4 separate regions of the Homo sapiens genome follow, and all the other regions are reported to be linked to region 1. The links are microRNA targets in miRTarBase. Many come from high-throughput screens and were not tested one by one. Region 1 holds a microRNA gene; each other region holds the end of a gene's coding sequence.

Region 1 (3,179 bases):
TAGGACTACAGGTGCATGCCACCACAGCTGGCTAATTTATTTTTATTTTTAGTAGAGATGGAATCTTGCTATATTTCTCTGGCTGATCTTGATCTCCTGGCCTCAAGTGATCCTTCCACCTTGGCCTTCAAAAGTTCTGAGATGTACTCAAGACCATGCCTGGCCTTGAATCTGAAATTTTTATGTGCAAAATGGAACTGAAAAAAGTCACAAGAAATTACTGTTTTCAAATATGTACCATATACCTTCTAAAATGATGCAGCTTGTACCTGCCTCTTAATTATGAATATCAGATATTAGTAATATTTTTTAAAATAATGAGTTTATTGGAGAAGCTTTATTCAGTTAAATCTTCTCAATTCAGAATTTTGTTACCTAACCTGTTTTGCATTTGCCATTAATTTTGATTCAATGCTCTGTACTTAATGATCCCCAAATTCCTAAATACCCTTACATTAATAGATCATGCAATTAAGTTGAATTGTATCCTAGGAAGTCAATTAGTACCTCTTCCACAAGTTACCTAGCCTCAGGACAAGATGTTACAGGCTTTTGTGCAATAGAACACTCATAAGTTCCTACCCTCACAAGAACAGACACCACATACTGTATATGCGTGGGTGACTGCATATGTGTATATCTAGTACCAGGCTTAGGTAATGCTGGACTTTTGTTTCTGGCAAAGGCAATTGATACTAGAATCATATTTAAAAGAGTATGCTTCTTCCTTATCTATACCTTGGTAGCACTATATAACAAAATGTTTTACCTTTATAGGTTACCTTACACTCCATTTTGGGTAAATAATACGTATTACTTACTAGTTTTTTAATAGAGACATATTAAAGAGGAAAGCAAACATAATTTATAATCCTATCCAATTTTTTTATTTAAAATAATAAATTGCTCATTTATCCTTTAATAAAAAACATGTATGTATGCCCTCCAGGTATGTGTCTGTGTATACATTTTCACTTGCACAAAAGTTATACATAATGTCATTATTCTTATGCCTTACTGTTTTGTAAGGACCACCAAATATTCTGTTGTATAACTATATTATTTATTTAGCCTGTATCAATCATACTGATGAGTGTTCAAGTTGTCTCCAATCTTTTACTATTAAAAACAGTGTTGCAGTGAACATCCTTGGACCTAGAACTTAGTGGTACTTTTGCAAATGTACTTGTGAAATAAGTTTCTAGCTGGGAATTTTTGGCTCAAAAGAGCATTATTTTTGGCAGGGCATGGTGGCTCATGCCTGTAATCCAAACACTTTGGGAAGTGGAGGCAGGAGTATGGCTTGAGTTTAAGGGTTTGAGACCAGCCTGGGCAACATAGCGAGACCTTGTCTCTACTAAAAATACAAAAAAAAAAAAAAAGAGTGATGGCACACACCTGTAGTCCCAGTTGCTTGAGAGGCTAGGGTGGGAGGATTCACCTGAGCCTGGGAGATTGAGGCTGCAGTGAGCTATGGTCGCACCACTGCACTGTATCCTGGATGACAGAGCAAGAATGTCTTTAAAAAAATCCAAAAATAACATTATTTTTAAGAGCACATAAAGCAGTGAACTAACTACACACTGCTGAGCCACAGTTTGTTATTGTTTAAATACATCTGAGTGGCAGAAATTGACCAAGTAAAGTTATTAGAGTAAAAATAAAATTGTACTGAGAGTCACTGGGATATTTTGTGGACTATAAATATGGTGGTAATAGCCTATAATTAACTGTCATCAACTTTAGACATTATTGATTTAATAAAATTTTTGTCACAATTTCATCCCTGTGGTTTCACAAGTAGTCCATAAACATTCTCGAGGTTCATTTTAGATCAAAGACCATTAAAAAAATGGAACTACCCACAAACCTCCTGTGCCTAACTACATCTTCAAAAGCGGACACTCTAAGGAAGACTATGTTGTTATGATCAGAAATAAGTGCGCTTTCAATTAATGAGTGTGTTTTCCCTCCCTCAGGTGAAAGGAAAAATTTTGGAAAAGTAAAACACTGAAGAGTCATAGTATTCTCCTGTAACTTGGAACTGGAGAGGAGGCAAGATGCTGGCATAGCTGTTGAACTGGGAACCTGCTATGCCAACATATTGCCATCTTTCCTGTCTGACAGCAGCCATGGCCACCTGCATGCCAGTCCTTCGTGTATTGCTGTGTATGTGCGCCCTTCCTTGGATGTGGATTTCCATGACATGGCCTTTCTCACCTTCCTTACTTCCTGTCCTGCTATGTATTGTGTCCTACCATGAATTCACTCCATGCTAGCCACATTGGCCTGTATGGCTATTCCTTGGACACACCTAGGATGTTCTTGCCTCTTAGCTTGCCTACCTTTCTCTCATCATTTGGGCCTCAGCGAGGATATCATCTCCTCAGAGAAGCCTTCTGTGACCATGCTATCTAAAATACTCCAGCACTTCAGTCACCCTTTATCCCATTACTCTGCTTTTTCAGAAACATTGGTGCTCCCTGAAACGTATTTGTTTACTTGCTTAGTGTCTTTTCTCCCGCACTACCATGTAAGCTTCTTGAGGGTTAGGGACCTTGTTAGGGATAACCACTGTATCCTTAGAGTGTGACACATAGTAGGTTCTCAATACATATTTTTGAAACTCTACCCTGATGCAAAAGAGATATCAAATAATTATAGTTTTTGCATTATAAATGTCTTTGGTGAAATCCCTGGCACAAAACTAATAATAAAGAAATAAACAGATAATGTTGAGTTCTGGGCCTGCAAACCTAACTCTTTAAAGCAGTCACAGTAAATGTGTCATTGGATCCATAGACTTGTGGAAGTCAGCATATTTTATTGGGAAAAGCATGAGCTTCAAAGTAAAACTTATGGTCAAATCTCATTACTGGTGCGTTCTTAAGTCATTTAACCTCTGAGCCACAGTTTACACAAATGTAAAATTAGAGTAATAATAGTGACTCCATAGGACCCTCAAGATAAGGAAATAAGGTATTTTAGTCAGATGATTCTTATCACATGTCTAAAAATTTAGTGTCTCTAAAATTCTTGATATATGCATACCAGTAGACACTCAACACATTTATTTCACTACTAAGAAAAAAGTTTTCTTTAGTTAGAGACAAGGGATTTTATGTGAAATGTGTGGAAATTCTATGCCAGAACGATAGTACATGTAGAATTCTTTGTAA
Region 2 (3,179 bases), not on the chromosome of region 1:
TAGCTACTTGGGAGGCTGAGGCAGAGAATTGCTTGAACCTTGGAGGTGGAGGTTGCAGTGAGCCGAAACTGCCACTGAACTCCAGCCTGGGCAAGAGAGTGAGACCCTGTCTCAAAAAAAAAAGGATTTCACCATGTTGCCCAGGCTGGTCTCGAACTCCTAAGTTGAAGTGATTTGCCCTCCTCAGCCTCCCAAAGTGCTGGGATTACAGGTATGAGCCACCACACCCTGCCTGGGCCTGATAATTTAAGGGCGCTCACAGCTCTCAGATTAAACGTTTCTTTTCTTTCTCAGGACTCCTTCCGCCCACCCATTCCTCCTCCCGAGTCCTTTCCCCTTCTCAAGTGCAGCCTGTAGCAGGGCCTGGAGGGGACCCTTGACACTGTGCCCCTCACCGAGAATCTAAACCCCTGACCCCGCAGTGAGTTTCTGGCAAGAACAGGAGTGTGATGGGCTTTGCCAAGCACCAGCTTGGTTGTGGGCTGTTTCCTTCAGTGACTGTTTGGCTTTTTGTCTTTGCAGGTTCTGCTTGGATTCTGCTAGACAGACCCGACAAAGACTGTCTATCAACTGGTCCAATTTTAGCTTGAAAAAAGCCACCTTTGCTGCCCACTGAATGAGGACTCCCTGGAGAGGGACACGCGAGAGGCAGGCCAGGCTGCACCACCCCAAGAGCCACGCCCCTCGCTGGCGCCCCAGAGCCGTGGTGCTTGCCAAGGGCTGTGCGGAGCTGGTGCTGCCTGAAACCCCAGACCGAGAAGTTGATGCTCGGCCCACGCCGTTAGCTCGTGTGCGTGTAGTCTGTGCGTGAGACTCCTTCGATTGTAGCTCTGTGCTGTCGGATTGGAACAGTAGTTCCCGCCAAGTCCTCCCACCACCGCGGCCTCGGAGGCCTGGGCCGTGGCCAGATAGGAGTTTGCATCATCCACGTGGCTCCGTTGCCTCTGCATTGCGCCCTGTCCTGTCATGTGTCCTCACCGGGGTATCGGCCGTCACTCAGCTCTCCTGTGCCCCTGCGTCTCACCCTAGGCGGGCTGGGCGGGGCAGGCCTCCTTTGTTCTCCACAATCTACTGTCTCCGAGTGTACACGTTGCGCTGTTTGTGTTTGATCCCCCTGACTTGTAGCCAGCTTGTGTAAGATCCCTTGCAGAACGAGAAAGTTAAAAACAAGCCCACCCAGTACTCACACCATCAAGTCTGTTATAGAGTGTACGACTGTATTAACACGGAGGCCTGCCTGGCTACTTTTTTAACATATTGTTAAGTAATATTAAAATCATGTCTTTCTTTTTGAAAGATGGAATACATTAGTACAGCAGGAGACCTCGGCTGCTTCTTTCTGCTGGGGGAGTGGGGGGATAGCGGGAGAGGGCGTGTAGGTGATGTGTCCGCCATGGGGAGCCAGGGCACCACCCCGGAGCAGGTCCCAGGTCTCTCCAGGCAACGGCTCACCCATCCTGGTGCCCCCACCATCCTCTGTGTGCCAGGCAGAGCAGGCAGCAGGAGACAGAAAGCTCCCAAGGAGCTGCATCCTGGTTACTTCTTACTACCTAGAACACTCAGTAGCTCCCACTTCTCCCAGCCTCATGTTCAGCCTGTCTCTGTGTGCCCTATCAGAGTATGACTTCACTCTGAGTGAAGGTGAATAGGGCAGGGCCTGGTTGGGGAGAGGGTAGGGAGAGCCAGCTTCTGGAGGTATTCGGACGATGAGGCCACAGGATTTCCTGGTGGACAGGATGCAGGTAGGAGAAAGAGGTGAAGACCTGCGCTGTGTGCCTGGAGGTGGGACTGGAGACCAGTTCTGGATGGTGAGTCTGGGATGTCCACCGGCCACCCAGGTGAGAGGTCTGGAACTGGGGACTGCTGTTCATGGACAGAGCCTGTGTGAGGGCCCTGCAGGGGTGAGTAGATGGGATGGGGGCCCGAGCTGTGGAACCAGGAAGGCAGAGGAGGGTGAGGAGGCTTCGAGGCAGGTCAGGGGAGACAAGGCCCAGGGCACCCCCACCCAGGCACCGGTTTGCAGGAGAATGAGGTGGGGACAGCAGGTCCTAGAACTCTGGAGATTGCACGAAAGCTGGAAAAGGGTCACCAACCAGGGGAGGTGCAGCACGACGAACTTTCCTCACTTGTTTTTTTTTCCAGGTGTGAGGAAGAGAACGTTCCTTTGTTCGTGGGATGATAGGGCAGAGAGTGAAGCAGGTCAGGCCATGACCACGGCAACAGTAGTGTCCTTGAAACCCCAGTGCAGGCCCCCGGGACTCCAGCCGCTGCCTCTTCTGGCTGCGGTGGTGGCTGGGGAAAGGCCCAGGCCCGGGCCTCGCCCTATGGGGAAGCTGCCTGCCCAGGCCCCCAGTACCTGCCCTGCTCTCCCCATGGACAGCCTTTAACACTGTGCTGAACCATGCCTGTTGCTGAGGGGAACTGCACAGCCCTGAGTGGTGATGGGGAACTCTGGGTGCCCCGACACACTAAGCATCATGCTGGGACCTAGAGACCCTCAGACGCCCACCGCACATGCCCAGTTCTGGGCACTCCCATCACCTCCATGGCAACCCTGCCTGCGGCTTCACAGCTCTGCCCGCTCTGGCCCCTGACCTGCACCTGCTAGCTTTGGCCCTCAGGCTCCCAGCCATTGTCCTGGCCATGCCCTTGCCAGGAAGGATCTTCCTCTATTTCCCTGGAAACCACTCATCCTTCCAGCATCCCAGGGTGCTTATAGGACATCCAGCTCCAGGGTCCCTGACTTGATGGGAGCCCCTGGGGTTCCTGATGACATCACTTCCCTGTGGGGGAGGGTGGGGCCGCCATAGGGGAGCCTCACATTTTTGACTCACACAGTAGCACAGGGTGAGTATCCCTTATCCCTTATCTGGCATCCTCAGTACCAGAAGTGTGTCCAGTTTCAGACTTTTTTGGATTTGGAGTATTTACATCATGCTTACCAATTGAGCATTTCTAATCCAAAAATCTGAAATCCAAAATGCTCCAATGAGCATTTCCTTGGAGCATCATCTTAACACTCAAAAGGATTTGAATTTTGGAACCTTTCGGGTTAGGCATACTCAACCTGTAATAGTCATGAAATGAAACAATAACAATAGTTAGAAAGGAAACTTTAACAGTGAACAGTTGTATTGAGAAGCTTACTGTTTTCTGCACCCTCAGCTCTGAGCCCTGCT
Region 3 (3,179 bases), not on the chromosome of region 1:
TGTCAAAGGCCAGCAGGCACTTGGAAAGTGGGTGCCACAAGGGTGATAGCATGGGGTGGTGGCATGGGGGTTCTGGGTAGGACCTGACCCTTCTGTTTCTCCCCATGTCCCAGGAAGAAGCTGGTGCTGGAGAACCTGGAGGACTCCTGCGTGCTGACTGGGCCAGATGATTCCCTGTGGGACAAGCACGCGTGCCCAGCCTACGTGGGACCTGAGATACTCAGCTCACGGGCCTCATACTCGGGCAAGGCAGCCGATGTCTGGAGCCTGGGCGTGGCGCTCTTCACCATGCTGGCCGGCCACTACCCCTTCCAGGACTCGGAGCCTGTCCTGCTCTTCGGCAAGATCCGCCGCGGGGCCTACGCCTTGCCTGCAGGCCTCTCGGCCCCTGCCCGCTGTCTGGTTCGCTGCCTCCTTCGTCGGGAGCCAGCTGAACGGCTCACAGCCACAGGCATCCTCCTGCACCCCTGGCTGCGACAGGACCCGATGCCCTTAGCCCCAACCCGATCCCATCTCTGGGAGGCTGCCCAGGTGGTCCCTGATGGACTGGGGCTGGACGAAGCCAGGGAAGAGGAGGGAGACAGAGAAGTGGTTCTGTATGGCTAGGACCACCCTACTACACGCTCAGCTGCCAACAGTGGATTGAGTTTGGGGGTAGCTCCAAGCCTTCTCCTGCCTCTGAACTGAGCCAAACCTTCAGTGCCTTCCAGAAGGGAGAAAGGCAGAAGCCTGTGTGGAGTGTGCTGTGTACACATCTGCTTTGTTCCACACACATGCAGTTCCTGCTTGGGTGCTTATCAGGTGCCAAGCCCTGTTCTCGGTGCTGGGAGTACAGCAGTGAGCAAAGGAGACAATATTCCCTGCTCACAGAGATGACAAACTGGCATCCTTGAGCTGACAACACTTTTCCATGACCATAGGTCACTGTCTACACTGGGTACACTTTGTACCAGTGTCGGCCTCCACTGATGCTGGTGCTCAGGCACCTCTGTCCAAGGACAATCCCTTTCACAAACAAACCAGCTGCCTTTGTATCTTGTACCTTTTCAGAGAAAGGGAGGTATCCCTGTGCCAAAGGCTCCAGGCCTCTCCCCTGCAACTCAGGACCCAAGCCCAGCTCACTCTGGGAACTGTGTTCCCAGCATCTCTGTCCTCTTGATTAAGAGATTCTCCTTCCAGGCCTAAGCCTGGGATTTGGGCCAGAGATAAGAATCCAAACTATGAGGCTAGTTCTTGTCTAACTCAAGACTGTTCTGGAATGAGGGTCCAGGCCTGTCAACCATGGGGCTTCTGACCTGAGCACCAAGGTTGAGGGACAGGATTAGGCAGGGTCTGTCCTGTGGCCACCTGGAAAGTCCCAGGTGGGACTCTTCTGGGGACACTTGGGGTCCACAATCCCAGGTCCATACTCTAGGTTTTGGATACCATGAGTATGTATGTTTACCTGTGCCTAATAAAGGAGAATTATGAAATAATTTTATTTTTCTCTGCAATTTCTTCCATCCTTTCCAACGATCTCTTACCAGTTTTTCCTGCCTTCAAAACTGGCCCCCATGGTGAAAGGCCGTAGAGTTGTGTCTTAACCTGGGCTGAGTGGTTTGTGAGAACAGATTACCTGGAGCCCAGTGGGTCTTCCTGCACTCCTTCTGTTTCTTCTGGCAGCAGCAGTGTCTCTATTAGGGTACTTTCTGAGTCAAAATGGCTTCAACAAGATGGAAATATGTTTCACACAAAACAAGAAGTCAGCAGATAGGGTGGGCTTCAGTGCTGGTCCATTCAACTCCCAAAGCTGCGCACAGGGACCCCGGCTCTCCAGGCTCCTTCTGTCTCTTGGCTGTATTGTCTCGAGACTGCTGGCCCAATGGCTACAGCAGGTGTCACATTAAAGAGGTCCATGACCAGAGGAAGAAGCCAGGGGTCATTGTAGTACCTGAGAACTCAGAACTCTGGAGTCAGGCTGCCTGGAATTAAATCCTGGCTCCAGCACTCAATAGCTGTTTGACCCTTGGCAAGTTTCTTAACCACTCTATGCCTCAGATTCTTCATCTGTGAAATGGGGGACAATGATAGTACCTAACTTATGAGAACTAAATGACTTATTTTGTATAAAGCAATTAGAACAAGCAGCGCCTGGCATAATAAGCCCACAATAAAAGTTACTCCCGGCTGGGCACGGTGGCTCACGCCTGTAATCCCAGCACTTTGGGAGGCCGAGGTGGGCAGATCACAAGGTCAGGAGTTCAAGACCAACCTGACCAACATGGTGAAACCCCGTCTCTACTAAAAATACAAAAATTTTTAGTAGAGACGGGGCGTGGTGGTGCGTGCCTGTAGTCCCAGCTACTCGGGAGGCTGAGGCAGGAGAATTGCTTGAACCCGGGAGGTGGACGTTGCAGTGAGCCAAGATCCCGCCACTGCACTCAGCCTGGGCAAGAGAGCGAGACTCCGTCTCGAAAAAAAAAAAAATGGTGCTCCCACATTTCTTTCTTGGGATGGAGGAAGCTTTCCCAGAAGCGCTCCTGACCGACTTTCCCACACATCTCACTGGTCAGAACTGCATCACTTGCCGTTTCTGACCAATCACCAGCTTACATTCATGGGGCACGTGCTTACACTAACCATGGCACTCCTCGAGCTAAGTGGAGCTCATGCGTCATATGGAGGGGTAGTGACTCCTGAGCAAAACCAGGTTCAAAGAGGGAGGGGATCGTAGGGAAAAGAATGTGCGGAAGTGCGGAGGCCCAGCCAACAGCCTGCTAACTGCAGATACTCGAGAGCGGCCACCCTAGATCATCTGACCCAGGCTGGCCCACGCTAGAATTGCCCAGTGACCCGCAAGGTCATGAGCTAATTGAGCTAAATAAAATCATTGTGTTTTTTTGTTTGTTTGTTTTGTTTTTGTTGTTTTGTTTTTTGAGACAGAGTCTCACTCTGTCACCCAGGCTGGAGTGCAGTGGTGCGATCTTGGCTCACTGCAACCTCTGCCTCCCGGGTTTTCAAACGATTCTTCTGCTTCTGCCTCAGCCTCCCGAGTAGCTGGGATTACAGGCACGCGCCACTACACCCGGCTAATTTTTATATTTTTAGTAGAGACGGGGGTTTCGCCATGTTGGCCAGGCTGGTCTCCAACTCCTGACCTCAGGTGATAGGCCCACCTCGGCCACCCAAAGTGCTGGTAT
Region 4 (3,179 bases), not on the chromosome of region 1:
GGCTTCATTCCCGGGATGTGAGGCTGGTTCAACATATGCAAATCAATAAACTTAATTCATCACACAAACAGAACTAAAGACAAAGACCACATGATTAACTCAATAGATGCAGAAAACACCTTCAATAAAATTCAACATCCTTTCATGTTAAAAACTCTCAATAAACTAGGTATTGAAGGAACATACTTCAAAATAATAAGAGCCATTTATGACAGACTCACAGCCAATATCATACCGAATGGGCAAAAGCTGGAAGCACTCCCCTTGAAAACCAGCACAAGACAAGGATGACCTCTCTCACCACTATTCAACATAGTATTGGAAGTCCTGGCCAGGGCAATCAGGCAAGAGAAAGAAATAAAGGGTATTCAAAGAAGAAGAGAGGAAGTCAAAATGTCTTTGTTTGCAGAGGACATTATCCTATATCTAGAAAACCCCATTGTCTCAGCCCAAAAGCTTCTTAAGCTGATAAGCAACTTCAGCAAAGTCTCAAGATACAAAATCATTGTGCAGAAGTCACCAGCATTCCTATACACCAACAACAGGCAAGCAGAGATCCAAATCATGAATGAACTCCTACTCACAATTGCTTCAAAGAGAATAAAATACCTAGGAATACAGCTAACAAGGGAAGTGAAGGACCTCTTCAAGGAGAACTACAAACCACGGCTCAAGGAAACCAGAGAGGACACAAACAAATGGAAAAATATTCCATGCTCACAGACAGTAAGAATCAATATCATGAAAATAGCCATACTGCCCAAAGTAATTTATAGAGTCAATGTTATTCCCATTAAACTACCATTGATATTCTTCATAGAATTAGAAAAAACTATTTTAAAATTTATATGGAACCAAAAAAAGAGCCTGTATAGCCAAGGCAATCCTAAGCCAAAAGATCAAAGCTGGAGGCATCACACTACCAAACTTCAAACTGTACTGTAAGGGTACAATAACCAAAACATCATGGTACTGGTACAAAAACTGACACATAGACCAATGGAATAGAATAGAGAACTCAGAAATAAGATTGCACATCTACAACCATCTGATCTTCAACAAACCTGAGAAAAACAAGCAATGGGGAAAGGATTCCTTATTTAATAAATGGTGCTGGGAGAACTAGCTATCCATATGCAGAAAATAGAAACTGGACCCATTCCTCATACCTTATACAAAAAATTAAGATAGAATAAAGGCTTAAATGTAAAGCCCAAAACTATAAAATCCCTAGAAGAAAATCTAGGCAATACCATTTAAGACATGAGCATGGGCAAAGATTTCATGATGAAATCACAAAAGCAACTGCAACAAAAGCAAAACTTGACAAATGGGATCTAGTTAAATTAAAGACCTTCTGCACAGCAAAAGAAACTATCATCAGAGTGAACAGGCAACCTACAGAGTGGGAGAAAATTTTGGCAATCTATTCATCCAACAATGATCTGATATCCAGGATCTACAAGGAACTCAAACCAAGTTACAAGAAAAAATAGAACCGCATTAAAAACTGGGCAAAGGACATGAACAGACACTTCTCAAAAGAAGACATTCATGCAGCCAACAAACATATGAAAAAAAAGCTCAATATCACTGATTGTTAGAGAAATGCAAATCAAAACCACAATGAGATATCATCTCACACCAGTCAGAGTGGCTATTATTAAAAAGTCAAGAAATAACAGATGCTGGCGAGGCTGTGAGGAAATAGGAACGCTTTTACACTGTTGGTGGGAATGTGAATTAGTTCAACCATTGTGGAAGACAGTGTGGTGATTCTTCAAAGATCTAGAACCAGAAATGCCATTTGACCCAGCAATCCCATTACTGGGTTTATACTCAAAGTAATATAAATCATTCAATTACAAATATATATGCACACATATGTTCATTGAAGCACTATTTACAATAGCAAAGACATGGAATCAACCCAAATGCCCATCAGCAATAGACTGGATAAAGAAAATGTGGTACACATACACCATGGAATACTATGCAGCCACAAAAAGGTATGAGATCATGTCCTCTGCAGGGACATGGATGAAGCTGGAAGCCATTATCCTCAGCAAACTAATGCAGGAACAGAAAACCAAACACTGTAGGTTCTCACTTATAAGTGGGAGCTGACCATGAGAACACATGGACAAAGGGAGGGGAACAATGCACACCAGGGCCTGTTGTGGGGGTAGGGAGAGTATTAGGAAAAATAGCTAATGCATGCTAGGCTTAATACCTAGGTGATGGGTTGATAGGTGGAGCAAACCGCCATGGCACATGTTTACCTATGTAACGAACCTGCACATCCTGCACATGTACCCCAGAACTAAAACTAAAACTAAAATAAAATAAAAGCACATTTTACTTAAGAGGTATTTTTGAAACCTCAATGCAATCATCTCATTTTACATGAAAACTCTGAGCTTAGAGAGGTACAAAAACTTGCTCATGGTCATAGCACTACTTAGTTACAGCACCTGGTCACCTGCTCCCAATTTCATAATCATTTCATCAGATATCAGTATGAATTTTGAGAAAAATAAACAACAACAAATTGAGTATTTTTCAAGAATAAACATTTCCTATATTAATCTGATATAAAAAACACTTCACATTATTTCAAACTAGTCAATAAATTAACATTATATACCAAAATAGCAATAAGTTAACAATCCCTTCTTTCACATTTTAATCAAGTATATTCTCAAAAGTCTTACAATATTACATTAAGATTTAATGTATCAAATCCAACAGCATTTCATCTCAATATTTAACAATATTATGTTCAATATTGAATAGTAAAAAGAAGCTAAACTTTATCTCTTTGTGTATTGATTTCAGCAATTCTGACAGTGTTTGATCCTCCATGCACGTGTTTCTACGCATCAAGAAAGCACAGCTACAAGGTTAACCCAAAGAACAATTTAAAAGCTATTTCAATGGCAATTTCTGTGACTGAGTCATGAAAACAGACATAAAGTTCTTGAGGTTTTGGATGAAGAAAAAGTCTCCTGCAGAAGAAAAGAACACACTCATTTCAGAAATTAAAACAACAAACAACAAAAACTCTAACCATCCAATTAATTTAATTTTTGTTTCTGAAAGCATCAGTAGTAAATTTAAAATCCATGAATCTAAATCTATACTAGGGAGAAAGCAGCTAGATTTATTTCTAAATAAAT

Evidence for each region. The annotated mature microRNA hsa-miR-31-5p reads AGGCAAGAUGCUGGCAUAGCU and lies in region 1 at 2,054-2,074, shown strand. An mRNA with a match to its seed (bases 2 to 7 or 8) in the 3' UTR can be bound and repressed. Matches are read on the target gene's strand: a 7mer-m8 pairs with bases 2 to 8, a 7mer-A1 pairs with bases 2 to 7 and ends in A, and an 8mer does both.
Region 2: the mRNA of FAM193A is a reported target of hsa-miR-31-5p. Seed matches in the 3' UTR shown: 7mer-A1 at 710-716.
Region 3: miRTarBase lists TRIB3 as a target of hsa-miR-31-5p. The part of its 3' UTR that is shown has no 7-base or 8-base seed match.
Region 4: the mRNA of INTU is a reported target of hsa-miR-31-5p. Seed matches in the 3' UTR shown: 7mer-m8 at 344-350.

Annotation. Positions count from the first base shown.
Region 1 is chr9:21,511,053-21,514,231 of GRCh38, reverse strand. MIR31 (microRNA 31) reads left to right here and starts at 2,047; the gene lies at 2,047-2,117. The region is part of intron 1 of MIR31HG (MIR31 host gene); the gene reads left to right.
Region 2 is chr4:2,731,253-2,734,431 of GRCh38, forward strand. It overlaps FAM193A (family with sequence similarity 193 member A), which reads left to right. Exons shown (of 21, transcript NM_001366318.2): 21 at 523-1,321. The coding sequence ends at 616. Among named protein-coding and RNA genes, the nearest start is that of TNIP2, 23 kb to the right of the region's middle.
Region 3 is chr20:396,085-399,263 of GRCh38, forward strand. TRIB3 (tribbles pseudokinase 3) reads left to right here. Exons shown (of 4, transcript NM_021158.5): 4 at 114-1,475. The coding sequence ends at 606. Among named protein-coding and RNA genes, the nearest start is that of RBCK1, 11 kb to the right of the region's middle. RefSeq lists an enhancer at 2,918-3,179.
Region 4 is chr4:127,716,154-127,719,332 of GRCh38, reverse strand. It overlaps INTU (inturned planar cell polarity protein), which reads right to left. Exons shown (of 16, transcript NM_015693.4): 16 at 1-3,008. The coding sequence ends at 2,897. Among named protein-coding and RNA genes, the nearest start is that of SLC25A31, 13 kb to the left of the region's middle.